5 separate regions of the Homo sapiens genome follow, and regions 2, 3, 4 and 5 are each linked to region 1. The links come from fine-mapping of genetic effects on gene expression. A gene starts in region 1. Each other region holds a variant in brackets. All regions are shown on one strand. Distances are between the middles of the regions.

Region 1 (6,153 bases):
CTGGAACTTTTGATTGACTGGCTTCAAGTTGGGGTTTCCACAACCCCCTCTTTGGGTTCAATTAATTTGCTAGAGTGACTCAAAGAACTCAGGGAAACACTTACGTTTACCAGTTTATTATGAAGGATATTACAAAAGATACAGATGAAAAGATGCATAGGGTGAGGTATGGGGTAAGAGGTATGGAGTTTCCATGCCCTCCCTGGGCACACCACCCTCCAGGAACCTCCACATATTCAGCTGTCCAAAACCTCCCTGAGCCCTGCCGTCTGGGCCTTTTATGTTCGTTGTATAGGCATGATTGAAGCATGGACAGCCGTGTCAAGGTGTGATTGACCTCTCTGTGCAGCCATGCTTCCTCCAGGGTATGAGGCAGGACCCTGTTTGCAATGAGGGTTTATGATCCGTAATCAGAAAGGCGGGAGATGATTAGAGTCCTGCCTTTAGTGAGTGGAAGGGGAGCAGAAGGTGAGAGAGAGAGAGAGAGAGAGAGAGAGAGAGATTGATTCTATTTTCTGAGGCCTAAAGTGCCCCAACATTGTAACAAAAGACTGTGAGTTATGAACCAGGTACTATGGCTGAAAACCTACATATACATGTATCATCATATCACACTTGGCAAACAACTCTTTGTACATTTCTGTAGCACTGCAGTGTTCAGTCTCTGACTTGGTGTGTCTTTCTCATCTGCCTCTTTGTTCTGCTGCTGTCCTAGAAATTAGAGACTTTAAAAAATTCCTTGGCTTTTTGGTAGAAAGAAACTCCCAGACTGGGTCCAAGCTGAAAATGAATCCCTTACTGGGTGAAAAACATGGATGCGGTAACAATTCCTGGCTGTAAATGCTCATAATATTACTGTTGAACCATTTTATGCTAATAAATTATCTGGGACCTACTTCCCTTTTGGTTTATTCCTCTTTTTTTCTCCTGTTGCTACTTATAACCATCCTTGTCAACTATCTACATTTTACTATTAAATTATTCATATAATGTTGGTGATTTCAAAGTTTTCTTGTATTATTTTTGGGCATTTGGCCGAAAGGCACTGCCTCCATTTTACAAGTTAGCATGTATCCAGAGGCCCTGTCCTGCAACAAAGGTGCAGGTGCCTCAGTGGCAATACGTGTAAGAAAATGTTAATTTTTAGGGTAAAAATTTCATTAGAAACTGTCTTTGTGGAATACAATATTAGTTAATCTTTACACATGTTTTTAAAGGAAGACGAAAGATTGCCACTAAAAATAAATTCGTACTGAAAGCATCTCTATCTACTCTCTCCATTTTTAAAGTACCTCACTTAGTATCTTTGTTTTCATTTGTTAAATGCAAGGTCATCCTTTGAATGTTGTCTTCAACTATGCTTGAAATAGCTTGAGACCCAGCAGATAATTCTGACCAGGAGGTATCAGCAGACAGTGGGCAGCACAGTTAGAGGAAAAAAATGTTGCAGGGCCCCACTCCCAATAAAAACCTACAATAAAAAATTTAAAAATTTTAATAAAGAGGAAAATGACAAAGAGGTTTTCCAAAGGATGTTCATATTCTCTATTTAAAAACCCCACTGGGCCGGGTACGGTGGCTCAGGCCTATAATCCTGAGCCCTGGAGTTCGAGACCAGCTTTGGCAACATGGTGAAACCTTATCTCTACCAAAAATACAAAAATTAGCCAGTCTCATAACCCGCTCTTAAATAAATAGATTAAAATTTAAAAATAAATAAATAAATAAATAAATAAATAAATAAATAACCCCACTGATATGAACATTTCTTCCATTTTGGAGTAAAGGTGCCTACAAGGCTAGGCAATGTCCATATTTCTTTCCTGAATGTTTCCAACGGGGCTGCGCCTAGAGCAGATGTATCATAAATACTAATTACTTATTATAATGACCAAGCTACATTGTTAGCATAGAATAATTCCACAGGCTTCCCTATTGGTTTGTTTGATCCTAAGCCTATTAATACCTGCTTCTATGTCAGAAAATCTACATTAGGCCAGGCATGGTGGCTCACACCTGTAATCCCAGCACTTTGGGAGGCCGAGGCAGGTGGATCACCTGAGGTCAGGAGTTCGAGACCAGCCTGGCCAACATGGCAAAACCCCACCTCTCCTAAAAATACAAAAATTTAGCCGGGCATGGTGGCAGGTGCCTGTAATCCCAGCTACTCAGGAGGCTGAGGCAGGAGAATCGTTTGAACCCAGGAGGCGGAGGATGAAGTGAGCCTCAAAAAAAAAAAAAGAAAAAAAATATTATTTTGATACATGTTTTAAAGCTCACCTTCGGCATTATGAGATAATCCCTCAAGTGAGGAAAAAGGTCCATTTATTAATCTCAAAGAAAACAGTTACAGCAGATGTCACTGGTTAAGAGTTCAGTTGGTGAATAGCATTTCACAATTTGTACCAACATCTGGGGAAAGACGCTTTGCATGGAACTGTAAAACAATTGAGCACCAAATCTGCACAACTGCGTTTCTAGAAAATGCGATGGGTTTTATAGAGATGAGGTCTTGCTATGTTTTCCAGGCTGGTCTCGAACTCTTGGCCTCAAGCGATCCTCCCGCCTCGGTCTCCCCAAGCGCCGGGAGTACAGGCGTGAGCCACCGACGGAAATGGATTTTAAGTGAAAGTCCTATCTTCGTTTGCAAATCAATTTTTCCAGGATCAAAGTTCTAGCAACCATAAATCCTATCCTTCTAGACATAGGGACCCACATAAGGGCCACTTGATGTGACACTTGCCCCGACAGCGGTGCCACCTGGCCCCTAGGTGGCAGGTGCGTTTTTAACTAAACCCAAGAGTCTGAAGTCACATTATTCTCTTGCCTTGAAAGCTTAAGAGTTGGTTCCTAATCGGTGGCTTAACTCGGTCTCTCTCCAGGCAAGGCCACCTGTTTGCTGATCTTTCACAGGGCGAGGGGACCGGAGCCCTTCAATGCAGCGCCCTCTTGGCCTGAAGAGGGGGCGACTGGGCGCCCAGACCGCGTCTTTCTCACTGAGATCCCAGCTCCTGGACGACTGCCTCTTTTCGGGTTCGGCTCATTCCGCAATAAGTGGAGGGGTCCCGCCTGATCCTAGGGGCCGGCGCCCTTTTCCTTCCCTCCCTGCGCTTGCGAACCCCTCCGGGCGTCTCCGGAGCCGCGACCCCTGCTGGGGACCCCGGGGGCGGGAGGCCGAGGGGCGCGGCGAGGGCCGTGACGCGAGGCGGGGCCGGCCAATGGGAGCGCTCCGCGGCGCAGGCTGAGCCGCCGGGCCATAAAAAGGAGGCGCGGCCGGGCTTTCCAGCCTGTGGCCGCTCCCGGCTCGGAGTGTGATCTAAGCAGGTTGCGTACCTTCCTCAGGTGACTCCGGCCACAGCCCATTGTCCGCGGCCACCGGCGGAGTTTAGCCGCAGACCTCGAAGCGCCCCGGGGTCCTTCCCGAACGGCAGCGGCTGCGGCGGGTCCATGGAGAAGGGCCCTGTGCGGGCACCGGCGGAGAAGCCGCGGGGCGCCAGGTGCAGCAATGGGTTCCCCGAGCGGGATCCGCCGCGGCCCGGGCCCAGCAGGCCGGCGGAGAAGCCCCCGCGGCCCGAGGCCAAGAGCGCGCAGCCCGCGGACGGCTGGAAGGGCGAGCGGCCCCGCAGCGAGGAGGATAACGAGCTGAACCTCCCTAACCTGGCAGCCGCCTACTCGTCCATCCTGAGCTCGCTGGGCGAGAACCCCCAGCGGCAAGGGCTGCTCAAGACGCCCTGGAGGGCGGCCTCGGCCATGCAGTTCTTCACCAAGGGCTACCAGGAGACCATCTCAGGTCAGTGCGCCCGCGGGCTGCTAGAGCGTGCGGGCGGCGGGGGCGGTGCTTGCAGGAAACGCGCGCCGGCTCCAGGAAGTTTCCGGAGTTGCCTCACTTTTGGCGCAGGAAGCCGGGCGCTGTCACCTCCGAACCCGCCCTAGCCTGCCGCCCTGCCGAGGCCCTGCGTGGGGCACAGTCGGGGCTTCCTGGGTGGCAGCGACCTCTCAGCCCCGGAACTCGCTGCAGCCGCCTTCCAGGGGCCCTTCCCGCTCCCAGCGCGCAGCCCTCCTAGAACGCCCCGGGTGGGCGTGGACGGGAGCCCGGAGCCCTCTCGCCTGAGCGCCCAGCGCGGGATTCTCGGGGTACCTGCGGTTCCAAACTTGCCCACGATAAGGATCACCTGGGCACTTGCTGCGGCGACGGCTTCCTGGGTAGTTCCTTATTGAGATCCCATTGTCAGGGTGTGTATCTGGATTGAAGCCTCGGCGCGATCCTTCCCCGAAACCTCGGGGACCTGCATTCCCACTGATTTGCCAGGGGATCGGAGTCTTAGAGTTGTGCTTTTTTTTTTGTCCACCTCAAGTTTACTCCAGTTCAGGACATTTACAAAATTCGGCACAATTTTGGGCACGGGCTTCCCCGGAGTTTGAGGTGTGAGGTTGATTGGGTGAGTTTGCTGCTGAAATCTGTTTCCTCCCCCCACCCCCAACCCCGCAAAAAGCAGTAAAGCTACTCCGGGATTCGGAGGGCTCCGTGGGTTCCAGGACTCAGTCTCATCCCCGCACCCTCCCACCCTAAAATAAAGCCGGGTTGACCCGGTGCTGTTAGCGTCTGAGGCGTGTCGGCTTTTCACCCAGAGGGTGGGGATGCAATCAGTGTGGGTAGGATGCAAGATGGGGTGATGGAGAGTGGAAAATGGGGACTTTGCTGCCTGTTGGCCAGAGAAGCAGTATTGGTCTGTGTTTAAAAAAATAAAGCTTCTGGCTTCTACAGCTGGGACCAAAGACATTATTTTCCAGTCTACACCTTCCGTGTGTCTTGGTGACATTTATTTATTTGCCCTAAGAAGCATTCTACCGTTCACTGTTTTTTGAAAGAAAAACAGTGCGCTGGAAAGGCAATCTCCCTGCCCCAGTTATTTCTCTGAAGGAGTGTAGAGCGATTCCACCAAATAGACCCTGGGAAAAAGAAAGTTATTTTTTGCCCAGTCTTCCACACCCCAAAGGAAGGGTGGGAAATCAGAATGTGAAAGAGACGGGGCCCCAAAAGGAAATGATGCTACACTCTAAAACCGGCAGTGACTTCTAGTTCTGTTTCCAAATTCACTTTTTTTTACCCCTCAATTGCAAAAGTTTGGAATCTCAGAAGAGATTTCAAAATACAAAGACTGAAAAATAAACTTTCAGTTTTCTGTGGGATCAGCTCTTTGGAGGTCTAGGGCTTTAAATTTGTGTGTGTGTGTGTGTGTGTGTGTGTGTGTGTGTGTGTGTGTGAGATATTTCACAATGTAATGAAATGTCTTCTTAAGGCCTTACTCATTTTGCCCCTTGCAGACACAGAAAGTGGTTTACTTCACAGCATCGGCCAGGCTTTGGGAATCCTCCCTTAAAGAGAATTCATAGGACAGTGTTCTGTAATCTAGCATGGATCTAATTACCCAAAGAGAGAGGAATTTCTGACCCTGAGACAGGTCACAGAATTATCTAAAGTGACTCACAGATTTACTTGAGAAATGGTTAGCTGAAATATCTCATGAGCGAAGATTCATTTAAAGAGGATTAATAACTGCAAAGAACACATCATTCCACATTAGAAAACTGTTCTGGTTGGCCGAGCTCGGTGCTCACGCCTGTAATCCCAGCACTTTGGGAGGCCGAGGTGGGCGGATCACCTGAGGTCAGGAGTTCAAGACCAGCCCGGTCAACATGGCGAAACCCCGTCTCTACTAAAGATACAAAAAAATTAGCCGGGTGTGATGGCGGGCGCCTGTAGTCCCAGCTACTCGGGAGGCTGAGGCAGGAGAATCACTTGAACCCAGGAGGAGGAGGTTGCAGTGAGCCGAGATTGCACCACTGCACTCCAGCCTGGACGACAGAGGGAGACTCTGTCTCCAGAAAAAACAAAAAAAACAAAAAAACTGTTCTGGTCAAGTTTTACTATTTAAAAAGTCCATGGGCCGGGCGCGGTGGCTCACACCTGTAATCCCAGCACTTTGGGAGGCCGAGGCGGGCGGATCACCTGAGGTCAGGAGTTCGAGACCAGCCTGGCCAACATGGGAAAACCCATTCTCTACCAAAAATACAAAAATTAGCCGGGCATGGTGTCAGGTGCCTGTAATCCCAGCTACTCAGGAAGCTGAGGTAGGAGAATCATTTGAACCC
Region 2 (6,153 bases), 41 kb before region 1:
CGCTTAACACTTTTTTCTTTTTGCTCTTGTTGCCCAGACTGCAATGCAATGGCACAATCTCGGCTCACTGCAACCTCTGCCTCTGGGTTCAAGTGATTCTCCTGTCTCAGCCTCCTGAGTAGCTGTGATTACAGGCATGCGCAACCATGCCCGACTAATTTTGTATTTTTAGTAGAGATGAGGTTTCTCCATGTTGGTCAGGCTGGTCTTGAACTCCTGACCTCAGGTGATCCACCCGCCTTGGCCTCCCAAAGTGCAGGGATTACAGGTGTGAGCCACCATGCCTGGCCCGCCTAACACTTTTTTTGAGACAGTCTTGCCCTGTCACCAAGGCTGGAGTCCACTGGTGCAATCTCAGCTCACTGCAACCTCCACCTTCTGGGTTCAAGCAATTCTCATGCCTCAGCCTCCTGAGTAGCTGGGATTACAGGTGTGTGCCACCATGCCCACTAATTTTGTTATTTTTTGGTAGAGATGGAGTTTGCCACGTTGGCCAGGCTGGTCTCAAACTCTTGGCCTCAAGCGATTTGCCCATCTCGGCTTCCCAAAGTGCTGGGGTTACAGGTGTGAGCCACCACACCTGGCCAAGCCTAACACTTTGGAAGGCCAACATGATCAGTTAGCTTCAGCCCAGGAGATTGGAACCAGCCTGGGCAATGTAGGGAGACCCCATCTCTACCAAAAGTTTTAAAATCAGCCAGGTGTGTGTGGTGGCACATGCCTGTAGTCCCAACTGCTTGAGAGTCTGAGGCAGGAGGATTGCTTGAGCCCAGGAATTTGAGGTGGCAGTGAGCTGATTATACCACTGCACTCCAGCCTGGGCGACAAAGCAAGACCCTTTCTCTTAAAACAACAACAAAGAAGATTGATAATTTAATTTTTCATACTATCAGTTGGTTATACAAAAAACTTACTTTTGAAATTTTAAGGAATTACCACTATTGAAACTAATATTTTGTCACAGATGTTGATATACTTAATCAGAAATGTCCAGTTTTAGCCAGGTGGCTGTGCACTCTTGTAGTCCTAGCCACTCAGAAGGTTGAGTCAGAAGGGTTGCTTAAGCCCAGAAGTTTGAGGCCAGCCTAGGCAACATAGTGAGACTCACGTCTCTTTAAAAAACAAAGAAAGAAATGTTCAATTTTGGTTTTCTTTTTAAAAATAGCTGTTTAGAAGTAGATGATTGCAGGCCACTAAGTAGACTTGTGACATTGCCCCAAGTTTCATTAAAATGGGTCTTCATTAATTTTTGGAAATTCAGGAACCTTTGTTATACCTTGATTTTTACTTGTTTTGATTTGTTCTGTTATTTTTCTGGAAATCGGTTTACGTTAAGATTACTTAAAATTTGCATATTTTCAGAAATTGGGCAAATGGTTATGGTCATACTAGTAATTTTTTAATAAAAATTTTTTTAACCTTAAAAAGTTTAGACTTTTTATTTAGGATTCATTTAGGTTCAGCCTAGTGAGGGGCGTATAGCTGCTGGGTTAAACATAAGAGACTCTGGGCCAGGCACAGTGGCTCACGCCTGTAATCCCAGCACTTTGGGAGGCCGAGGCGAGTGGATCATGAGGTCAGGAGTTCGAGACCCACCTGGCCAATATGGTGAAACCCTGTCTTTACTAAAAATACAAAAATTAGCTGGGTGTGGTGGCGCGTACCTGTAGTCCCAGCTGTTTGGGAGGCTGAGGCAGGAGAATCACTTGAACCTGGAAGGTGGAGGTTGCAGTAAGCCAATACAGAGCCACTGTACTCCAGCATAGGGGAAAGAGCTAGACTCCATCTCTACAAAAAAACATAGACTTTGGAGTCAAATTGCCTGGTTGTTGGATCCCAGGTCTGAGTTTTACTGTTTGTGTAACCTGGGATAGGTTATTTCACATCTCTGAGCCTCCCTTTTCTCACTTATGGAATGGAGATAATAACTGTATCCATCTCATAGTGTTATTGTCATTTAAATGAGGTACTATACATAAAGCTTTTAGAGTAGTGCCTGGTAGATAGTAAGTGATCAGTAAATGTTAAATATTTGCATTAAACCTTCACTTGTGTGACTTAAAGACAATTTGTATTGTGAGTGGAATCTAATGAAATGTACAAATGTGCTGTGTCCGTGCTTCACCTAATGCTGATGCAGGTCAGCTCTGAGAGCAAGGGTGAGGCGATGGCAAAGGGGCTTGAGAAAAGTCGTGAGGAATTCAAATAGCTGGTTTGGGGAAATAGAAAAAGAGCCTACCAAGGACATGTGGTAGGCCACAAGGGCTAAGTGAGGTTGGAGACCTTGAGCCTGTCAACATTCATTAAAAAGTTGAAAGTAC[A/G]GAGTTCATGGTTGCTGCACTTGGAAAATACAAACGTGAGTGATCCTTTTGAATTGACCTTACAAAGGATTTTCCAGTTCATTGATCCTGCAGTCTCCAGGCAGTTTAAAGTAATATGAGGCCAGGCACGGTGGCTTATGCCTGTAATCCCAGCAGTTTGGGAAGCCGAGGCGGGCAGATCACGTGAGGTCAGGAGTTTGAGACCAGCCTGACCAACATGGTGAAACCCCATGCAAAAAATTAGCCAGGTGTGGTGGCGCATGCCTGTAATCCCAGCTACTTGGGAGGCTGAGGCAGGAGAATCGCTTGAACCCAGGAGGCGGAGGTTGCAGTGAGCTGAGATCGCGCCATTGCACTCCAGGCTGGGTGACAGAGTGAGACTCTGTCTCAAAAAAAAAAAAAAAAAAAAAGTAACATGAATTAACAAGTGTAACTGTGTCTTCCTTACTTTATATAATAGATGTCAGAGACTTATGGTTGATTACTAACTTAAAATCATGAGGCACTTTAAACTCTGTCTTAAGTATAAAATGTTTTCACATAATTGTGATTTTAGGCCAAAGACCGGGTTCCAGATGTGGTTAGAAGAAAATAGAAGTAATATTTTGTCTGACAATCCTGACTTTTCAGATGAAGCAGACATAATAAAAGAAGGAATGATTCGATTTAGAGTATTGTCAACTGAAGAAAGAAAGGTAAGGATAATTGTGCCGAGATTGAGATCTTAGTGAATTCCCAGATTTAAAAAATTCTTATAGAAATGCCTTTTGGCTGGGTATGGTGTCTTATGCCTGTAATCCTAGCACATTGGGAGGTCGAGGCGGATCACTTGAGCTCAGGAGTTCGTGACCAGCCTGGGCAACATAGTGAGACATCGTCTCTAATAATAATAATAACAACAACAAAGATAATAACGATCATGACAACTAAAAAAAAAAGGAAAAGCCTTTTTCTGTTTTTGGAAATTGAATACATCCACCAAACTTTTTAAAGAGGAAAGTAAGTGCGGATATATGGTAATATGGATATGTAGTAATTATTATGTAATGGTGATGGGTTTTTTGTTTTGTTTTTGTTTGAGGCAGGTCTTGTTCTTTCACCCAGGCAGGAGTGTCGTGGTGTGATCATGGCTCACTGCCACCTCGACCTCCTGGGCACAAGCAATTGTCCTCTTTTTTTTTTTTATAGAGACAACCTCTCACTGTGTTGCCCAGGCTGGATGGTTAATTTTTTGACGGTTTACTGTTTTAATCTCTATAAGTTCCTGTATGTTTTAAGTTAGGAGAATACCCCAAGAAAAGATGCATTTGTTAAAAATCAAAAGTGTCAAGCTGAGTTCGTTGGCTCAAGCCTGTAATCCTAGCACTTTGGGAGGCCAAGGCAGGAGGATCTCTTGAGCCCAGGAGTTTGAGACCAGCCTAGACAACATAGTGATACACCATCTCTACAAAAATTTAAAAATTAGCCTGGCATGGTGGCACACACCTGTAGTCCCAGTTACTCAGGAGGTTGAGGTGGGAAGATCACTTACTTGAGCCCAGGAGGTCAAGGCTGCAGTGAGCCGTGATTGTGTCACTGTACTCCAGCATGGGTGACAGAGTGAGACCGGGTCTCTAGGGGGAAAAAAATTAATAAGTAAAAATGAATTCACATTTTTTGAATACTACTTTAGGGTTCTTGCAAGCAGAATTTTTAAAAATTGTATCTACTTACACATTAAATACTACATGAGACTATTCCTTTTGGGAAAAAGACTGGTGTTCTGTTCCAGCCTTTCACATGGAAATTAGGACAGGTGGCTGGCTTGCTTCTGATAAACTTCTGCCATGTGAAGGAAGGAAGGCACAATCTCTCAGTTAGAAGTGGAAGGAATGTGTGTGGTGTACCAGTTAAATCCTCAGGTTTCACTTCCCCAGGAATGGCAGGGCGCAGCACAGGCACCTAGTAACGTAGATACTTGCTTTGGTAAATTGGGTTTTATGAAAAAGGTGTTGCATAATGAGGAAGCCAGAAACTGGTTTAAACACCTTTAGCGTCATTTAGAACCTCATTTACAATTTTATGTTTCTCATTTGTTGTTCAATAAAATGGCGTCTAAATAAATAAGACTTTACACTGCAAAAGAGGAAGAGACTTGGCAAAGTCTGTGATTGTGTTTTTGAATACTTAAAAATGTAATCAGTATTTTTAAGGTAAACCCTAAACATTTACTTAAATCCAGTTTGTTAATGTGAGAAATTCTACAGCTTGAAGAGCCCTTGAAATGGCCAGGGAAATAAAGTAGGAGTGGGGAACTATTATAGATTAAAAGAGATTTTAGAGACAGATGAAATGAATGGACCTTGTCTGGCTCTTGCTGAGTGAATAAAAACCAAACCCCAAAGAATATATACTCATTTATATAACATTCCTGAAATGACAACATGATCAAGATGGAGAATAGAGTAGTGGTTGCCAGGGGTTGGAGTCGGAGTTGGGGCTTGGGGAAGAGGTTCTGTATTTTGACTGTGGTGGTAAACAAACCAACCCACAATAAAAGTAAATACATACATACGCTCAAATGAGTAGAAGTAAAATGGGATTGTTTCAATGTCAGTTCCCTATAGTTGTGATTGTTGGGCTATAGTTTTGCAAAATGTTACCACTGGGGAAAACTGGGTGAAGGCTACACAGGATCTTTCTGTATTATTTCATACAACTGCATGTGAAACTGCAATTATCTTAGAATAAAAAGTTTCATTTTTATTATTTATTTATTTATTTATTTATTTATTTTTTGAGACGGAGTCTTGCTCTCGCCCAGGCTGGAGTGCAGTGGCGTGATCTCAGCTCACTGCAGGCTCCACCTCCCGGGTTCACTCTAGTCTCCTGCCTCAGCCTCCCAAGTAGCTGGGACTACAGGCGCCCGCTACCATGCCCGGCTAATTTTTTTGTATTTTTAGTAGAGACGGGGTTTCACTGTGTTAGCCAGGATGGTCTCAGTCTCCTGACCCCGTGATCCACCCACCTCGGCCTCCCAAAGTGCTGGGATTACAGACATGAGCCACCGTGCCTGGCCAAAAGTTTCATTTTTAAATAGTACTGCAATTATAGTATTTTGCAACTAATATGATTAATATAAGCAAAGCTTAGATTGAGATATAAAAGTAGTGTAAATCTTTAATGTGCTCTGCATTTAAGTAATAAAAGATTTGTTAACAATGAGAACACTTAATTCAAGTGCTAATTATTCTGCTTTATATATAAAAATATTACCTGGAAAAGTAAATAAATCATTTACTTCTTATTTGTTATTTTCTAAAAATCTTTCCTTTTCACTCCTGCCATTTTACAAAGGTGTGGGCTAACAAAGCCAAAGGAGAAACGGCAAGTGAAGGAACTGAAGCAAAGAAGCGAAAACGTGTGGTTGATGAAAGTGATGAAACAGAAAACCAGGAAGAAAAAGCAAAAGAGAACCTGAATTTGTCTAAAAAGCAGAAACCTTTAGATTTTTCTACAAATCAGAAACTATCAGCTTTTGCATTTAAGCAGGAGTAAAGGAAGAAAGTGACCCTAGGGAAGTAATGGATTTTTTTTTACTCATCTTTGAATATAGACTCGAGTCTTTGGGAAACTCATTATATATATATTTTTTAAAGAGTTTGAAGCAACTGTTTGTCTTTATAAGATAATGTAGTAATTATATTGGTGTAGGTAACAGGACATATGTAAAAACTATCATCTTTGCAGATTACTCTGCCTCCAAATGCAGGGCCTTTCAGAGATGCATTGTGATTGTAATTACTGAGTTGAAGCTCCAACCAATTTGAATTTGTTTCTTAACCTTGAAAAA
Region 3 (6,153 bases), 47 kb after region 1:
TGCAACTTAAAGACTTGGAGGGTCTGAAACACAGATGCCCCTTCCTTCTCGTCCCCTACTGCCTGCTTCCTCTTCCACTTCCCACCCTTTCTTCCATAGATACATACATCCTGGAAGTCTCAGCCCACCTCTTTCTCTGCAGAGCCTTCTCTGACTGGAGAGGTCCTGAGCTTACCTTCAGTCCAGCCCCATCCTTTAAGGGGGGTTTAGCTAACAGTGAGGGGTTGGGGAAGAAGCTGGGCAGGGGTCTAGCTGCAGTGCTCTGCTGTCGAACTTGTTGTCAGGCCTGAGGACTCTTCTATCCTTGTCAAGGGGAGTGCTCACCTTCTTTGCTTTCATACAACACTGCTTTCAGACTTGTAATGAAACTTCCCTGTGGGATCCCCAGCCTCAACCCTGCCTTGCTCTGCACTGGATGCCTCCAGGCATATCTCAGGGGTCCTGCAGGCCAGTCCGTTCATGTCTAGGTTCTTTGTTTCTGCAAACACAAGACTGCCTGCCTTGGCTTTGCACAGCTTTATTCTGATACAGTGTTCACGCTCCTCGCTCTCATTTCTCTTTCCTGCTACAATCTTCTTTTCTGTTGTTTATCCTGTGGGTTCATGCCTTAAAAAATTCCCTTACTGCCTTTTTTATTTGGGTTTTAGGAGAGGTGATGTACATACACGTTCATCTGTGTTTAACTGGAAGTCAACATGGGGGTTTGTGTTCAGATATCTCTGGTAGGCCCCAGCCACCAATATTTTATTGCCCTTAAATATCCTTGTTGTTTCTTCGTATAAAGTTAGTGAATTTTGAGTGATGGAGGAAATACTGGGAGGTGTGTGTGTGTGTGGAGAGAGAGAGAAAGTTAAGAACAAGATGAAGGGGTCGGGTAAAGTGTTCCTACTCTTTTTTTTTTTCAAAAATAATCAAGCTAAGTTTGAATAACTTGAGGTTATAGTGACCATATCATAATTGAAATAAATGAGTCTCGGCCGGGTGCCGTCTTTCACACTTGTAATCCCAGCACTTTGGGAGGCTGAGGCGGGCGGATCACTTGAGGTCAGGAGTTTGAGACCAGCCTCACCAACATGGTGAAACCCCATCTCTACTAAAAATACAAAGATTAGCTGGGCGTGGTGGCGCACACCTGTAATCCCAGCTAATCAGGAGGCTGAGGCAGGAGAATTACTTGAACCCGGGAGGCAGAGCTTGCAGTGAGCCGAGATTGTGCCATTGCACTCCAGCCTGGGCGATGGAGTAAGACCCTATCTCAAAAAAATAAAAATAAAAGAAGAGGAATAAATGAGTCTCTGTGACCAGTTGACTGTGCTGTGGCTCTGATGTGTTCCTGTTTCTTTATGCAGGCCCTGGGATTTAACACAGTTGTGAAATGGTGGTCCTGATATTTCTCAATTCTGTGTTGGAATCTGTAAAAAAAAAACTACTCCAGCAATCTGACAACTGCCCTCTAAAGTTGTTCCTGTTACTTTGTTTTCACTTCCACTTTCTCATTCATTTCCTCTGGGGATCAATAAGAAAGTGGGTAGAAGAGACAAATTTAACTTCCCCAGTTTCTGACCTCATTCCTGCTCAGCTATTTTGCTATTAGATAGGGCTGCTTGGCACCATGAAAGAATATTATATCATAGCTGTAATTGCTTCACTGGAATAAGGCTCTTAGCACAAATCCAGAAACATTCTGGCTGCTTGCGTGTGATCCATCCCTGGTGGCAGTGCTGAAAAGTTGCTGAGAAAAAGTGTGTTGGTAGTGATTGGGAGTAATTAATCTTACTATAATTTTTATTAACGACTCCCTTCCCAGTAACTTACCCTCAACTAATGATGTATTAAACCAATTTCATGTCAACTGTGAGTAAAAGTATCTTTACTAAAATTGGTTATTCTTATGGTTTTATAATATACAGTCTAAGTAAAATCAGCATGCTTACTGTGCAAACATAGCTGTAGGCCCAGTCCCCTGGGCCTCCCTGTCAGCAAGATTGCTAACCCTATACCTTGCCCATATAGAAATTCCAGCACTGCTGATGCCTATAACAGACTGTCCATATGTGAAAGGTGTAATGGATAGTTTCATAGTGTAAAAAAGCTTGGCAGATCACATTAGGCCTTGGTCTTAATGTAACAGCCTTCTCTGAAAAACCAACTGTTGATCATGATTAACACTTTATGGGAAATGGACTCTTGAGTGATTCAGTGAGATCATACAATAAATGGCAACCTGGTGGTAGAAGGAAATAATCTTAGTTATTTCCTTTCCAAGTGAAAGGAAAAGATCTCAAATAATTAAGCTTTTATGAAACAATACAAAGGAGTTGATTATTAGCATGGGGATTTGTCCTTAGACTAATAGGATTAAAATTTAAGAATAAAATGGAACATGAAGCCAAAGAACCAAGTGTATGTTGCTTTCAAATATTTTGCAAAAAATTTGAATAAAGAGTCTATTAAATAGAAAAGAAGACTAAGATTTTATCCAACTACTTATTCCTTATAAGAAGTAAGAATATTTAGAGAATGAAGAGGAATAAAAGCTGAATGTCTTAGCAAAACTTCACTGCTCATTTTAATCTTATATATGAAGTTTGTTATATGCTTGCCTTTAAATGAATGACCTTTCAGTGCCAGTGAAGTCAAATATCAAGCAGTAAAGCCTTAAGTAACAAGAAAATGCCAGAAGTGAGTTGATCTGGCTCAACTCTAGTAGAATTCTAGAATAAACTTAGTTTGAATAGAACTTTCTTTTGTTGCTGAAAAGCCATTGAACATGTATTCATTTTCTTCCCTTAGAAATAACTGAGCCTCGGCTGGGTGAGGTGGCTCATGCCTGTAATCTCAGCACTTTGGGAGGCCGAGGTGGGCAGATCACTTGAGGTCAGGAGTTCCAGACCAGCCTGGCCAACATGGTGAAACCCCATCTCTACTAAAAATACCAAAATTAGCAGGGCATGGTAGCATGCGCCTGTAATCCCAGCTACTTCGGAGGCTGAGATGGAAGAATCGCTTGAACCTGGGAGGCGGAGGTTGCAGTGAGCCGAGATTTCACCACTGCACTCCAGTCTCGTGACAGAGCAAGACTCTGTGTCACTAAAAATAAATAAATAAATAAATAATTGAGTGAATGTACGAAATCTTGAATTTAGAGTTGTAGTATCTCAGGTAGCCATGGCTGACCTGTTGGGTGGGCACTGTGCCAGCTACTGTGGAGGCTAAAGAAGCAGGACATGGCAGCCACCCTCAAGGAGAGTGCACAGGGCAAGACTGCAAGTGCCATGGAAATGCCTGCTGTAGCTCCAAGTTCAGAGGAGCCATGATGGCTGTGGCCTGGCAGGTGAATAGACCTGGAGGTGGAGGGATGAGCAGAATTCTAAATGGGGGAGAAGTTTCTCTAGGTATAGTTAATGCATGAGCAAAGACCAGTCAGAGGGTAGGAGCAAGGCCTATTCCAGTGGATGGGAACCAGATTGACTGATGGAAGTAAGAGTAAGTGAGGTGAGTATTAGATTACAGAGGGAGCAGTATTTTTTTTT[C/TC]TTTTTTGACTATAAAAGCAACATACCATTTAAATACAAATGAGTGAATAAAGTGAAAACTTTTCTTACCTATTTTCATTCCCCAGAGTTAGAACTAGAGATTTCTTTCACTATCCTTCTGGAAAATATTTATGCAAGCACAAACATAAGATCATATCTTATATTCTGTACTACAACTTGCTTTTTAAAATTTTATTTTATTTGGTGTTTTTTTGAGATGGAGTCTTGCTTTGTCGGCCAGGCTGGAGTGCAGTGGTGCGATTTTGGCTCACTGCAACCTCTGCCTCCTGGGTTCAAGTGATTCTCCTGCCTCAGCCTCCCCAGTAGCTGGGATTACTGATGTGCACCACCATGCCTGGCTAATTTTTGTATTTTCAGTAAAGACAGGGTTTCTCCATGTTGGCCAAGCTGGCCTCGAACTCCTGGCCTCAAGTGATCAGCCTGCCTTGGCCTCCCAAATGCTGGGATTACAGGCATGAGTCACTGCACCCGGCCAGCTTTTTTTTTTTTTTTTTTTTTTTTGAGACAGGGTCTTTCTCTGTCGCCCAGGCTGGAGTGCAGTGGCACTATCTGGGCTCACTGCAGCCTCCACCTCCTGGGTTCAAGCGATTCTCCTGCCTCAGCCTCCTGAGTAGCTGGGATTACAGGCGTGTACCACCACGCATAGCTAATTTTTGTATTTTTAGTAGAGATGGGGTTTCAACATGTTGGCAAGACTGGTCTTGAACTCCTAACCTCAGGTGATCTGCTCACCCCAGCCTCCCAAAGTGCTGGGATTACGGGAGTGAGCCACCGCGCCTGGCCCTGGCCAGCTTTTTAAAAATTTAAAATACCTTGAAGTTCTTTGGACATCTTTTAGTCCAAAAAGTCCAAGTTTCTTTTCATAGCTACCTAATATTTCTTTGATTAATACAATTCATTTAACCAGTATTTGCTATAGATAAGTACAGTTTGCAGTTTGAGACTTGCCAAAAAGTAAAAAAGTACCCTGGTGAACAAATTTTATTATCTTTGTGTGCTTTGAATCTATCTGAAGTTTAAATTACTAGTATGGAACTTGATGGGTAAAGGGTAGCCGAATTTTTGATATTATGAAATTGCTCTCCAAAGAGACCATGCCAGTTTATACTCTAATAAATAGATACATAGGTAAGGGGTGGTGTATGTTTCTCCACACTTCGGCCAACACACTTTTCATCACACTTTTAAATCTTTGCCAAACTGATAAGTAAAAAATAGTATCTATTTTAATTTGCATTTCCTTAATAGAGCGAGGTTGAATCTATTCAGACACTTCCTGTTCTTAGCTCCAGTATTAATTTTTCCACTGAGTTATTTGTCTTTTTATTCTTGGTTTGCACAAGCTCTGAATGTTAAAGCAGTCAGGTCAGGTGCTACAGACAATGCTTCCCAGCTCGTCATTTGTCTTTTGATTTTGCTTTATAGTATTATATTTCCATAAAGAAGTTTAAAACTTTTCTGTAGTTCACAAACTTCTTTTTTTTTTGGTACTTGTATGGCCACATTATTATATTTAAATCTTTGCTCCATCTGGAGTGTATTTTGGGGTGAGGAGTGAGGCAGAACCCATCCACTGCTGCGTGTGCTCACTGCCCGGCAGGTGCAGCACCCCCACTTCCTGCCTTCCTGCCCTCCCTGCTGCAGGTCTTTGCTGGGCCTTTCTTATCTTCCTCCTGGAGGGAATGTTAAGCTCCTGCCTCCTCCCTGCCTCTCATCTCTGAGGATCCTTCAGTTTGCCCTCATGAGCTGCTGGGATGTTCTTTCTAAAGTGTGGATTGGATCATGCTGCTCCTTTGGTGGCTCACCACAGCTTTTCAGTTAAAGTCCAAACTCCTTATTTAGAATAATTTAGAAAAAGCCAAAGAACAGAAATCACAAATCTACAAGTTGAAAATCTTGTATCATAGGTTGCTGGGGAGTCTGATATCTAGGAATGAGACGATATGTAACTAAAAATATGCTTTATAAATCTTTACATCTTGATGAATACGTTTTTTAAAAAGATGGGGAGAGAAAGGAATGGACCAAGAGTTTGAAAGCCTGCATACATTAATAACCATTAGAAAAGGTCAAATTAATGATTTGGGGGAAAGTGCCTGGACCCAGTCAGTTTTATAAGTGTTCTTTCAAGCTTTCAAGTAACCACAAATTTTGCATGTGTATAAATAATTCAAGAGCGTAGAGAAACCTGTGAAGTGTCAATTAATTTGATGAAGCTGCCTATTCTTGATAACAAAGCCTGATAAGCCTAGCATTAAAAAAAAAAAATGATAGGCAAATCTCACTGATTAATGTAGTTGTAAGAATCTTAAAATGTCAGGCTAGTATAGAAGTACTGTTTTCAACATGACCCAGGGATGTTTAGTCCAAGAATGTAAGAATGGTTTAGATTAAAACTGACAACTACTGATGCTGGGTGTGGTGAACTAGATTAATAATGCCCCTCTTGGCACAGCGTATCAAGATATAATGCATATGTACATTTTACACTTTCGGGAAAGCATGAGGCAATTCTAGTGAGAATCCACTGGAATTAGCACTAAAGCCACAGTCTGGATTCTGTCCTCCCTTTTCCCATCCCAAATCAAGGACGATACTT
Region 4 (6,153 bases), 68 kb after region 1:
ATAGGAGTGTGAGATGGTCACCTTGTAGTTCCATGTAATCACACTGTCTTAAATGCTCAAATTAAAAAAAATAAATAAAAACTGGTAATTCTGTGGTTAGCACAAAATTCAAACATCACAAAATAATTAAGGAAACATTTACCTTCACCTCTGCTCCCAAGTAAGCCAGGCAGCTGCTATCATCAGAGATATTTAATGAAATTCTTTACTTTCATGGCAGAATGAAAATCTTTGTCTCCTGCATGTAGGCTGACTTTATGTACTTCCTAATGGTAGAAGGTGTAACTCTAAACTGGTGAGGAGTTTGTGTAACTATCAGAATGTAAAATCCATTATGTTTATTCTGGTGTTCTTTCAAAGTCATTAGATGCTTTCTCTGAATTTTTTTTTTTTTTAGCAAAATCATCTGCAAAAGAAAAATGTGTCCTCCTTACAGAACTTTGACCACCTTAGCAAAAGAAAAGCAGATTCTGGCAAACTGAGTGTTTCAAGCAGGGGCTCTTTTAAAATTTGTTTTTTTCTTTCACTTTTCACGTTATTTGAATAGGTAATATATGCACTTGCATATAATGTGAAAAGCACAAAAGGATATGCCTTGAAAAGTCTCTCTCCCTTTCCATCCCCAGCTGCCCAGTTCTTTTCCCCAAAGCCACCACTTTACCACTTTTTTGTTTGTTTGTTTTGAGACACAGTTTTTGCTCTTGTTGCTCAGGCTGGAGTGCAATGGCGTGATCTTGGCTCACCACAACCTCTGCCTCCCAGGTTCAAGCGGTTCTCCCGCCTCAGCCTCCCAAGTAGCTGGGATTACAGGCATGCGCCACCACACCCGGCTAACTTTGTATTTTCAGTAGAGACTGGGTTTTACCATGTTGGCCAGGCTGGTCTCGAACTTCCAACCTCAGGTGATCCGCCTGCCTCGGCCTCCCAAAGTGCTGGGATTACAGGCGTGAGCCACTGCGCCTGGCCCACTTTACCACTTTCTTACATATACTTCCCCAAATATTTAAGGCATATTTACACACACACACACACACACACACACACACACACGCACACACGTTTATTTAAATGAGGGACTATTGGCCATGTGTGCCTATCCAAATCACCTAGGGAACTTTTAGACAATGTTTCTGTACCCTGTGAGGAACTATTCAGTATTTGTAATTATAGTTTGAAAAAGAAAATTGCCCTTGGTTATTCTGGTGGGCTCCCTCAGTTAAGAATGACTAGCCTAAGATACAAAAATTCAGACCCACAGAACCCAACAGGAAGCCAGTAGCTCCTTCCCAGGCAATTTGGGCAGGAGAACAGCTGTGTGGATCACTCTGTGAACAATCGTTTCTATCGTCCCTGGTTAAGGGCATCTGCAACCACTCAGCTGATAAGTCTAAAGGTAAATTGTCCCTTAAAAGGGACTGTCTCCAGATTAATATAATCACTGCTGCAATTGCCTGTGTATAAATAACTTATTTCTCTGGTCTGATACCTCTAAACATATCCTACTTTTTTCCTCCTCCATCTCATTTTTTTATACTTGTTAATCATAGAAAACTTAGAAAATGGGCAGGCACAGTGGGTTACACTTGCAATCCCAGCACTTTGGGAGGCTGAGGTGGGCAGATCACCTGAGGTCAGATCACGTGAGGTCAGGAGTCACCAGCCTGGCCAACATGGTGAAACCCCATCTCTATTAAAAATACAAAAATTATCTGGGCGTGGTGGCAGGCACCTGTAGTCCCACCTACTCAGGAGGCCGAGGCAGGAGAATCGCTTGAACCCGGGAGGTGGAGTTTGCAGTGAGCCAAAATTGTGCCACTGAACTCTAGCCTGGGCTACAGAGAAAGACTCTATCTCGAAAAAAAAAAGGAAAAAACCTTAGAAAACAGTGAAGTATAAATAAAAAGACCAGTTACCCAATTGCATAGTTCAGAAAATAACTGCTGTTGACATTTGTTTTATTTTACTTGCTTTTAAAATTGTGCAAATAATATCTGGATGCTTCTGGAATATTTAAAGCAAATCCATCCAGACAGTCTATCATTTCATCGGTATTTATTTCACTATGTATCACTAATGGATAAGGGGTAAGGACTTAAATAAAATCCCCGCACATTATCACATCCCCCCCAAAGTTACAACCATTACTTGATATCATATCATATTCTGCATTTACCTTTTCCCAGATTGCCTTACATTTCTTCCTAGAGTTCACTTTGATGTGTTTTCTTCCATTTGTCCCTCCTTATTCTGTGTAACTATGTGTAATACTTTGGATACTCTAAAGTCCTCACAGTCATTCCCTCCCTTATCTTGTATCTTTGTTTAAATGGCTACATGATGTTCCATGGTATAAATGTCACATGTATTGATTATTTTCATAATGATGGGCTGTCATGTTGTTTCCAGTTTTTTCTTATTATAAATAACACTGCAGTGGACATCTCTATTTCCAAAGGATAGGCTTTTAGGTATAGATTTATTGGGACAAAAAAGTCACCCGTCTTTCTGTCTTCCCCTCCCTAAGTAACAAAGGACAGACTCAGGTGGGCTATTTACAACCCCCACCCTGGCCCTGTGCTGTGCAACTGTCCTCATATTGTAACTGTCTTACACCTAAAATTTTGTAGCACACAAATTAATTTTTTCTCTCACCCAGGGGTAACTTTGCACCTCACTTATCTTGGCAGATTCACAGTTTTACACGGAAACTTTTATTGAGATAACTGTATGAAGAAATACTACAGTTAGAAGAAATACTACACAGAGTTCACTTCTGTACTTTGCTGGGTTTTTCCCAGTGCGAACATTTAGCCAAACGATGGTGCAATATCACAGCCAGGATATTGACATTGATATAATACACCAATCTCATTCTGATTTGTCCAGTTTTGCTTGTACTCACTTGCATGTGTGATTAATTTCTTTGCAACGTACAGGTCTATGTATCCCCCACCATAGTCAAGATGCTGACAGTTCCAATACCACAGGATCTATCGCGTTGCCTTACTATAACCA[C/T]ACCACTCACCCTCAGCCCCTTCACATTTTAAAAAGACTCTTTTTTTTTTTTGAGATGGAGTCTCCCTCTGTCACCCAGGCTGGAGTGCAGTGGCGCGATCTCAGCTTACTGCAACCTCCACCTCCCAAGGCCAAGCAATTTTTGTGCCTCAGCCTCCCGGAGTAGCTGGGATTACATGCATGCACCACCACAGCTGGCTAATTTTTGTATTTTTAGTAGAGATGGGGTTTCACCATGTTGGCCAGGCTGGTCTCAAACTCCTGGCCTCAAGTGATCTGCCTGCCTCCGGCCTCCCAAAGTGCTGGGATTACAAGCATGAGCCACTGCACCCAGCCAAAAAGACTCTCAATACATATTCCAAATTTCTGTCTAGCAAGATATAACTAATTCATACTACCCTGCCAGCATTGAGTATCATTTAAAAAATATATTACTAGGTGGCCAATGTTTTCACTGTCTAGCTTTCTGTTAAAGTCTTTTAATACATGTATTGTCAAATTTGGCCTCAAAGTGTATTGCAAATATTCTCCTAGAAGAAATGAGGCAGATGTTTCTTTCATTTCTCTGCTTGTCCAATACTTCAAAACATTGTTTTCAGTGAAAATCAAATCATGAACCCTGCCAAATGCAAGAAGCATGCAGCCTTCTATCTTTAACAAAGCTGGTACTAACTTTCAGGAACACTACTTGTGGGGTTGAGACAATTGTATTTTGCTTAATAGGGTTTTCTGGCTAAGAGCAGACTGGAAGGTTTTGCTAAAGTTATTTCTAAAAGGGATTTTATCTAAGTCAAAGGATACTTACCTTTTCTAAGTACAGTTCAATGAAAAATAATTTTATTTTCTTTAGGTAGAGGTGATCTCTGAGAGAAGGAGCCCTCTCAATATCTCTCTCTGAGAAATGAGTATATTCCTTCTGCTTGGCAGTGGTCCGGGTAACCCACGACACCCTGGCATTTAGGCTGGCTCCCTTTGTGGGGTCAGAATTCTTCCTGGTCTAAAGTGAAGTCACTGTGGACCTGCTTTTCATTATAAGCCATCATTTTTGCTAAAGGTAGAGCATTACTAAAGTTGGAGTTGAGGCGATTATAAACAGCAGTATGGAGGATGAACCTGGAATACAGCGGATAGAAACAGTGTGGGGGTAGAGTGGTAGACGACAGGTAGAATTAGAAGGCTCTGTCCTCAGGCAAACATAGCATGGGAGGTACTTCAGTCAGAAATACAGTTTATAATAAATCAATTCTCATTTAGCCTGGAAAAGTTAACACACATGATACATGGAGGACGCAATTGAATTTTAGCCATGTAGTTGTGCACATTTTAGATCTAGAAGTCACAGAGAGTATAAACACAGAAGATCAGATTATAAAAGACCCTGTATATATATATTTGCTATTTAAAACAACAATAAATGCCTATATCATTTGCCCCAGTAATTCTTTGGGGAATTTATCCTCTAGATGTATTTATATATATATGTGTGTGTGTGAAGGTGACATTTGTATACAAGATTATTCATTGCAGCATTGTTTGTCATAAGAAAGCTCTTGTTTATTAGCTCTAAACCCAAAGTATGCAAAATGATCACATGAAGTTTTGGTTGCAATTTTTAGGGTCCTGGAAGTCCTAGCTAGAGCAATCAAGCAAGAGAAAGAAAAGACAGGCAAGTAGGAAAAGAAGAAGTCAATTTATCTCTTCACTGACAATATTACTCTATACCTAGAAAACCATAAAGACTCCACTAAAAGGCTCCTGGAACTGATAAACGACTTCAGTAAAGTTTCAGGATACAAAATCAGTGAAAACAAATTGGTAGCATTTCTGTACACCAATAATGTTCAAGCTGAGAGCCAAATCAAGAATGCAATTGTATTTACAACAGCCACAAAAAATAAAATACCTAGGAATACATCTAACTAAGGAGATGAAAGACCTCTATAAGGAGAGCTGCAAAACACTGATGAAACAAATCATAGATGACACAAACAAGTGGAAAAACATCCCATGCCCATGGTTCAGAAGAATCAATATTGTTAAAATGGCCATACTGCCCAAAGCAATCTATGGAGTCAACACTATTCTTATCAAGCTACCAATGCCATTTTTCACAGAACTAGAAAAAACTATGCCAAAATTTCTATGGAACCAAAAAAGAGTCCAAATAGCCAAAGCAATCCTAAGCAAAAAGAACAAGACCAGAGGCATTACTTGACTTCAAACTATGTTATAAGATTACAGTAGCTAAAACTGTATGGTATGGTACAAAAACAGACACATAGCCAGGCACGGTGGCTCCTGCCTGTAATCCCAGCACTTTGGGAGGTTGAGGTGGGGAGATCACATGATTCCAGCCTGGGCAACATGGTGAAACCCGTCACTATGAAAAATACAAAAAAGTAGCTGGCTGTGGTGGTGCACGCCTGTGATCCCAGCTACTCAGGAGGCTGAGGTGGGAGAATCACCTGAGACTGTGAAGTCAAGCCTGCAGTGAGCTGTGATCACACCACTGCACTCCAGCCTAGGCAATGGGAGTGAGACCCTCTCTCAAAAAAACAAAATGAAACAAACAAACAAACAAAAAACAAGCACATAGACCAATGAAACCGAATAGAGAACCCGGAAATAAAGCTGCACACCTACAGCCATCTGATCTTTAACAAAGTCAACCAAAATAAGCAACGAGGAACAGAATCTCTGTACAATAAATTGTGCTGGGATAGCTGTATAGCCATAAATAGAATGAAACTCGACCCCTATCTTTTACCACATATAAAAATTAGCTCCACTGGTCGGGCGCCGTGGCTCACGCCTGTAATCCCAGCACTTTGGGAGGCTGAGGCGGGCAGATAACCTGAGGTCGGGAGTTCGAGACCAGCCTGACCAACAGGGAGAAACCCCGTCTCTACTGAAAATACAAAATTAGCTGGGCGTGGTGGTGTATGCCTGTAATCCCAGCTACTTGGGAGTCTGAGGCAGGAGAATTGCTTGAACCTGGGAGGCAGACGTTGCAGTGAGCAGAGATCACGCCATTGCACTCCAGCCTGGGCAACAAGAGCAAAACTCCATCTCAAAAAAAAAAAAAAAAAAATTAGCTCAAGATGTATTAACGATTTAGATGTAAGACCTCAAACTATA
Region 5 (6,153 bases), 57 kb before region 1:
TATTCATTTAAGCCATGGAGACATAAAAATGCTGCCAAACTGACCCACCATTAATTGTAATTAATTGTAATTCCAATTTCAGAGATGTTAAAACTTGTAAAAATGTGCATCTTAGAATTAGGGAGATAGAGTAGCTAGAAAACTATTGTCTCAGTTTTACTAGTAGTGTCAGTATCTTTAAAAAGTTTTACTTGATGTTATTTGATCTCCCCCCCCCCCCCCTTTTTGGATTAGCTTTCTTGTAAACTGGAGCGAGAATTCCGTTGTGTGGAACTTGCTGATCTAATGACTCAAAATGCTGTGAATTTAGCCATTAAATATGCTTCTCGCTCTCGGAAATTAATACTGGCTCAAAAACTAAGTGAACTGGCTGTAGAGAAGGCAGCCGAATTGACAGCAACCCAGGTGGAAGAGGAAGAAGAAGAAGAAGATTTCAGAAAAAAGCTGAATGCTGGGTAAGAAATAATTTAGTTGTTTGAATTTTCCTTTACTGTCTTGAATGTTAAGTTGGTCTTTGCATAGCTCTTTATTGAATAATATTATTTTCTCTTAGTTACAGCAATACTGCTACAGAGTGGAGCCAACCAAGGTTCAGAAATCAAGTTGAAGAAGATGCTGAGGACAGTGGAGAAGCTGATGATGAAGAAAAACCAGAAATACATAAGCCTGGTGAGATACATTTTCAAGCCCATAAATCATGAGAACTATCATGGATGTGGCTTTTCCCATTTTGCTTAACTGAGGGAAATTGAATACTCATACTTTTTTTCAGACCTCTTTGCTATCTGGTTGTTGTATATTGAGGATGACTATATTTTCCCCATTTACATTATATTGCTTTATTTTAATCTGTAGGACAGAACTCGTTTTCCAAAAGTACAAATTCCTCTGATGTTTCAGCTAAGTCAGGTGAGAAATATTTATAAATTTGTAATATCAAGGAAATTTTGCAAGTCATCTGCAAAGTGACACATCTACGCAAATACACCTTAACTCTTAAGGCCACTTTTGGTGTGTGTGTGTTTATGTTTTTGTTTTTTTAATCTCAGATGTTGTTTGTGAAGCTATGGTCATTTAACAGATGTTTATAAAATGCCTATTGAGTGTCAGGCATTTTACTTAATGGTGGATACAGAAGTCAAACAGACATGTGTGGTTGATCTCTGTTTTAATGCTATTTTAGCCCAGCTGAGAAGACAGATGTTGAAGACAGATCTGGGTATCACTGAGGAAGCATGCAGGATACTGGAGAAACAGTTAAAAGGAATTGAAGGCTGGGCGCAGTGGCTCACGCCTGTAATCCCAGCACTTTGGGAGGCCGGAGTGGGCGGATAACGAGGTCAGGAGTTCTAGACTAGCCTGGCCAACACGGTGAAACCCCATCTCTACTAAAAATACAAAAATTAGCTGAGGGTGGTGGTATGTGCCTGTAATCCCAGCTACTCGGGAGGCTGAAGCAGGAGAATCACTTGAACTCAGGAGGTGGAGGTAGCAGTGAGCCGAGATCGTGCCATTGCACTCCAGCCTGGGCAATGGAGTGAGACTCCATCTCAAAAAAAAAAAAAAGGAGTTGAAAATGGTTGCGTACAGGGAGTGGGCCTGGGGGATAAGAGAAGGTTGAAGTAAGGCACTGCTGGCCCTTTTTTGGTGGGGAGCATAAACCTTATAGTACCATTTGACTTTTTAAACTGTGGACATATGTTACTTTGATTTAAAAAAATTAACTTAAAAAACATGTAGAATATGAAAAGAGCGTATGACACATAGCTGTCATCTAGCCAGTGGTGGAGGATGGGTAGGGACTTCAAGGCAGGCCTCATGGAGTGTTTACAGCAGAGACCTGAAGGATGAATAACAGTCAGCAAGGCAAAGGTGCATGGGAACAGGAGCAGAAGAGAAGCATTTGGGCTTAAGGAACAGTATGTGTGAACTGAAGGCTGCAAAAGGGTGGTGTGAAAAGCTCAGAGAGCAAAGAGAAAGTGGTGCTGAAGGGTTTCGGAGTGATGGGCAGGAGCCAAGTCATGCAGATCTGTGTAGGCCATATTAAGGATTTTGGTCTTTTTTTTATTTTATTTTATTTTTTTTAATAGAGATGGGGTGTCACTCTGTTGTCCAGGCTGGTCTCAAACTCAAGCAATTTCCTCACCTCCACATCCCAAAGTTGTTGGACCTGCAGGTGTGAGCCACCACACCCGGTCAGGATTTTGCTCTTTATTCTAAGGTCACTGAGAGACTGTTGTAGGTTTTAAGCAGAGGTATAGCATGGCACACTGTGCTGAAGAAGAACAGATAATAGACTACTGGCCAGGTGTGATGGCTCATGTCTGTAACCTCAGCATTTTGAGAGGCCAAGGTGGAAGGATCACTTGAGACCAGACGTTTGAGACCAGCCTTGGAAACAATGAAACCCTATCTCTACAAAAAGTAAATAATAAAAATATTAGCCAGGCATGGTAGTACACACCGGTAGTCCCAGGTATTTGGGAGGCTGGGACAGGAGGATATCTTGAGCCCAGGAGTTCGAGGGTGCAGTAGGCTATGGTTGCACCACTGCACTCCAGCCTGGGTGACAGAGCAAGACCCTGTATCAAAAAATAAATAGGCCAGGCGTGGTGGCTCACGCCTGTAATTCCAGCACTTTGGGAGGCCGAGGCAGGTGGAGCACTTGAGGTCAGGAGTTCAAGACCAGCCTGGCCAAAATGGTGAAACCACATCTCCACTAAAAATACAAAAAAAAAAATTAGCCGGGCATGGTGGCTCATGCCTGTAATCCCAGCTACTCGGGAGGCTGAGGCAGGAGAATTGCTTGAATCCAGGAGTGGGGAGTTGCAGTAAGTGGAGATCACGCCACTGCACTCCAGCCTAGGTGACAGAGTGAGACTTCATCTAAAATAATAA[T/G]AAGAAGAAGTAAATAAAAATTAAAAAATAAAGAGACTACAAGCTGGGCGTGGTGGCTCACACCTGTAATCCCAGCACTTTGGGAGGCTGAGGAGGGTGGATCACGAGGTCAGGAGATTGAGAGCATCCTGAAGAACACAGTGAAACCCCGTCTCTACTAAAAATACATAAAAATTAGCCGGGCATGGTGACAGGCACCTGTAATCCCAGCTACTTGGGAGGCTGAGGCAGGAGAATGGCGTGAACCCGGGAGGCAGAGCTTGCAGTGAGGTGAGATCATACCACCGCACTCCAGCCTGGGCGACAGAGCGAGACTCCATCTCAAATAAATAAATAAACAAACAAACTACAGAGGCAGTCCAAATGAGATTGAATAAGGGCCTGAGCTAGGGTGGTGATGGTGATGTTAGAAAGAATGGGCAGAGTTGGAGAGCTATTTCTGAAGATGATGAAGAGAGTGTAGGAGTTCAGGGCGTAAAGAGTGATTCTCAGTTTCTTGTAATAGAAGAAAAACTTAAGCACATTTGAATCTTGAAGGATTAATTTGAACATTCAGTGATTCATGAATCAGGGAGGCACCAAACCGCAAGGGGCTAGCACTCTGCCAGGAGAGACAAAAGGGGAAACTTTTATAAAGTATTTTCAGAAACGAGATAAATAAAACAATTTTTATTGGCTAGATGGAAAGGTTTTTTTGTTTGTTTTTTTTGTTTGGTGGGGGGGGTGCGGATACAGGGTATCTTGCTTTGTCACTCAGACTGGAGCAGAGTTGGAGTGCAGTGATGCAGTCCTAGCTCGCTACAGCCTTGAACTCGTATGCTCAGGTGATCCTCCTGCCTCACCCTACTGAGTAGCTATGACTACAGTTGTGCATCACCATGCCTGGTTAATTTTTTGTGTGTACTTTTTGTAGAGAGAGGAGCTTGCTTTGTTGCCGAAGCTGGTCTGGAACTCCTGGGCTTAAGTGACCCTCCTGCCTTAGCCTCCCAAAATTTTCGGATTACAGGCACAAGTGGCCATGCTCAGCTAGAAATTTCCTGCCTGCCTGCCTGCCTGCCTGCCTGCCTCCCTCCCTCCCTTCCTTCTTCCCTCCCTCCCTCCCTCCTCTTCCCCCCGCCAGGGTGTGACTGTCATCCAGGTTAGAGTGCAGTGGCGTGATTATGGCTCACTGCAGCCTCAACCCCCCAGACCCAAGCGATCTTTCCACCTCAGCCTCCCAAGTAACTAGGACCACAGGCATGTGTCACCATGTCTGGCTAGTTTTGTTTTGGTTTGGGTTTTTTGTTTTGTTGTTTTTTGTTTTTGTAGAGACAGGGTCTCCCTATGTTACCCATGCTAGTCTTAAACTGGGCTCAAGCAGTCCTCCCTCCTCAGCCTCCCAAAGTGCTGGGATTACAGGCTTAAGCCACCATGCCAGGAAAGCTCTTAATTAGAGATTAGTTTGTTAACACTGGCTTGAGTACTTGAGTGAATGATGGTGCCATTTCCTAAGTCAGGAAACACTAGAGAAAAGCAGATTTAGAGAGGAAGATGATGAATTACTGTAAGGTGAGTAGAATGTCGTGAAGACAGATATTTGAATCAGGAGCTCAGGGAAGTATTCTGGTCAAGAGATACAAAGTGAAAATCATTGGCATAAGTATAGCAATTTAAACCATGAGCATGGGTAAGCAAGCATTGGGGGAGAATGTAAAGCAAAAAGAAAAATGAGCTTAAGCCTAGGGAATCTCCAACATTTGAGCATCAGGTAGAGGAAGAGGAGGAACCAACTATTGGAACACAATGAGTCCACAGGTCCAGAGAGGAAGGAACTAAGTCAGGGAATGCAGTATCTCAGAAGTCAAGAGAGGACAAAGTATCAAGAAGTAAGGAACAGTCAGCTATGTGGGATGCCATTGATAGAGCAAACAAGGTGACTGAAAGGTATCCACCAGATTTGACAATGTAGAGATCACTGAGGGCCTTAGCAAGAGGAGATTCTGTAGGGTGGTAGAGCTGGAAGTGCTATATTGTATGGAGGAATGTATGGGTGGTGAGGAAATGATAATAGTGTCAACAGTTCTTGGAAAAATTTGGCTGGATGACCGGGCGTGGTGGCTCATGCTTGTAATCCCAGCACTGTGGGAGGCCAAGGCAGACGGATCACCTGAGGTCAGGAGTTCAAGACCAGCCTGGCCAACATGGTGAAACCCTGTCTCTATTAAAAATACAAAAATTAGCCGGGCGTGGTAGCAGGCGCCTGTAATCCCAGCAATTCGGGAGGCTGAGACAGTAGAATCGCCTGAACCTGGGAGGTGGACTTTGCAGTGAGCCGAGATCACACCATTGCCCTCCAGCTTGGGCAACAAGAGCGAGACTCTGTCTCAAAAAAAAAAAAAAATGGCTGGATGGAGGAGGCGAGAGAAAATGGTGACTGGAAGGAATGTGGGGTAGAGAAGGTTTGTTTTTTGTTTCTTTTTAAGTTGGGAGACTTTAGGGGCCAATAAATAGGGAAAAGTCAAAGATGTAGGATGTCAAGAAACTTGATAGGTCAGGTTTTCTGACAAAGCAGGAGGGCATGGGATGCAGAACACAAGTAAAGGGATTACTAACCTTAGCTCAGACGAGCTGCCACTCTTCCGCAGTAACAGAAGATAAAAGATCTGTACATACTGAATATGTTTCATAGTGGCACGTTGGGGTGGTTCACATTTAATAGCTTTTATTTTGGCTTAGAAGTAGGAAAGAGGATATCTGTTGTTAATAGTTTTGAAAAGTTGCAAAATACATTTGTTTTCATTTAATGGGGATTAAAATACTCTGTCTAGTATTATAGATGTCAGAAGTCATCTATTTTCTACCATTATTAAGCAAGGGTTTCTTTTTTGTGAAAGGTGCAGTTACCTTTAGCAGCCAAGGACGAGTAAATCCCTTTAAGGTAAACTCTTCCAAGTGATGTTTTATATTATTTAAATACATTTGTATACAAAGAAATATTTCCAAATGATGAGATGACTCTCCCCAGACTTGGAGGCATGAAAGACTGATCTGTGTGGAAACAGAAGAAAGCAGCACTTGGGCTGAGAGTTGTCTTTTCTACTTACCTTCTAAGTACCTATGGTTTTGAAAGATACCTCTGTCTTTCTTGGGGATGTGGTATTTGGGAATATACGTATCATTCTTAATTTGGATTGTACCAAATGTATTTAGTTCTAAAGATGAGATGGCAATACAAACTTAACAGAAATTTCAAGAAAAAATAAGTCTCTTGGGATT

Alleles and levels. Positions count from the first base shown, and alleles are read on the strand shown. Sizes are in standard deviations (SD) of each study's normalised expression. Not every link is listed here.
With allele G in place of A in region 2, the expression in left ventricle of the gene that starts at base 3,285 in region 1 is lower (small effect, 0.31 SD a copy in GTEx).

The links. PIP is the estimated chance that this variant, and not a neighbour inherited with it, causes the effect.
Region 2: its variant is fine-mapped to the expression of GCH1 in left ventricle (GTEx, PIP 0.93).
Region 3: its variant is fine-mapped to the expression of GCH1 in whole blood (INTERVAL, PIP above 0.99).
Region 4: its variant is fine-mapped to the expression of GCH1 in whole blood (TOPMed, PIP above 0.99).
Region 5: its variant is fine-mapped to the expression of GCH1 in whole blood (TOPMed, PIP above 0.99).

Annotation. Positions count from the first base shown.
Region 1 is chr14:54,899,958-54,906,110 of GRCh38, reverse strand. GCH1 (GTP cyclohydrolase 1) reads left to right here and starts at 3,285. Exons shown (of 6, transcript NM_000161.3): 1 at 3,285-3,790. The coding sequence starts at 3,448. RefSeq lists silencers at 2,931-3,570, 3,981-4,030, 4,041-4,100.
Region 2 is chr14:54,941,195-54,947,347 of GRCh38, reverse strand. WDHD1 (WD repeat and HMG-box DNA binding protein 1) reads left to right here. Exons shown (of 26, transcript NM_007086.4): 25 at 2,878-3,016; 26 at 5,658-6,153. The coding sequence ends at 5,858. Among named protein-coding and RNA genes, the nearest start is that of GCH1, 41 kb to the right of the region's middle. RefSeq lists an enhancer at 2,183-2,477. The variant A/G (reference allele first, on the strand shown) is at 2,322.
Region 3 is chr14:54,853,408-54,859,560 of GRCh38, reverse strand. All of the region lies in intron 3 of GCH1 (GTP cyclohydrolase 1), which reads left to right. It also overlaps the pseudogene RNU6ATAC9P. Among named protein-coding and RNA genes, the nearest start is that of MIR4308, 22 kb to the left of the region's middle. The variant C/TC (reference allele first, on the strand shown) is at 3,534.
Region 4 is chr14:54,831,639-54,837,791 of GRCh38, reverse strand. No RefSeq gene overlaps it. Among named protein-coding and RNA genes, the nearest start is that of MIR4308, 43 kb to the left of the region's middle. The variant C/T (reference allele first, on the strand shown) is at 3,016.
Region 5 is chr14:54,957,254-54,963,406 of GRCh38, reverse strand. WDHD1 (WD repeat and HMG-box DNA binding protein 1) reads left to right here. Exons shown (of 26, transcript NM_007086.4): 19 at 235-455; 20 at 554-669; 21 at 856-909; 22 at 5,772-5,815. Among named protein-coding and RNA genes, the nearest start is that of GCH1, 58 kb to the right of the region's middle. The variant T/G (reference allele first, on the strand shown) is at 2,899.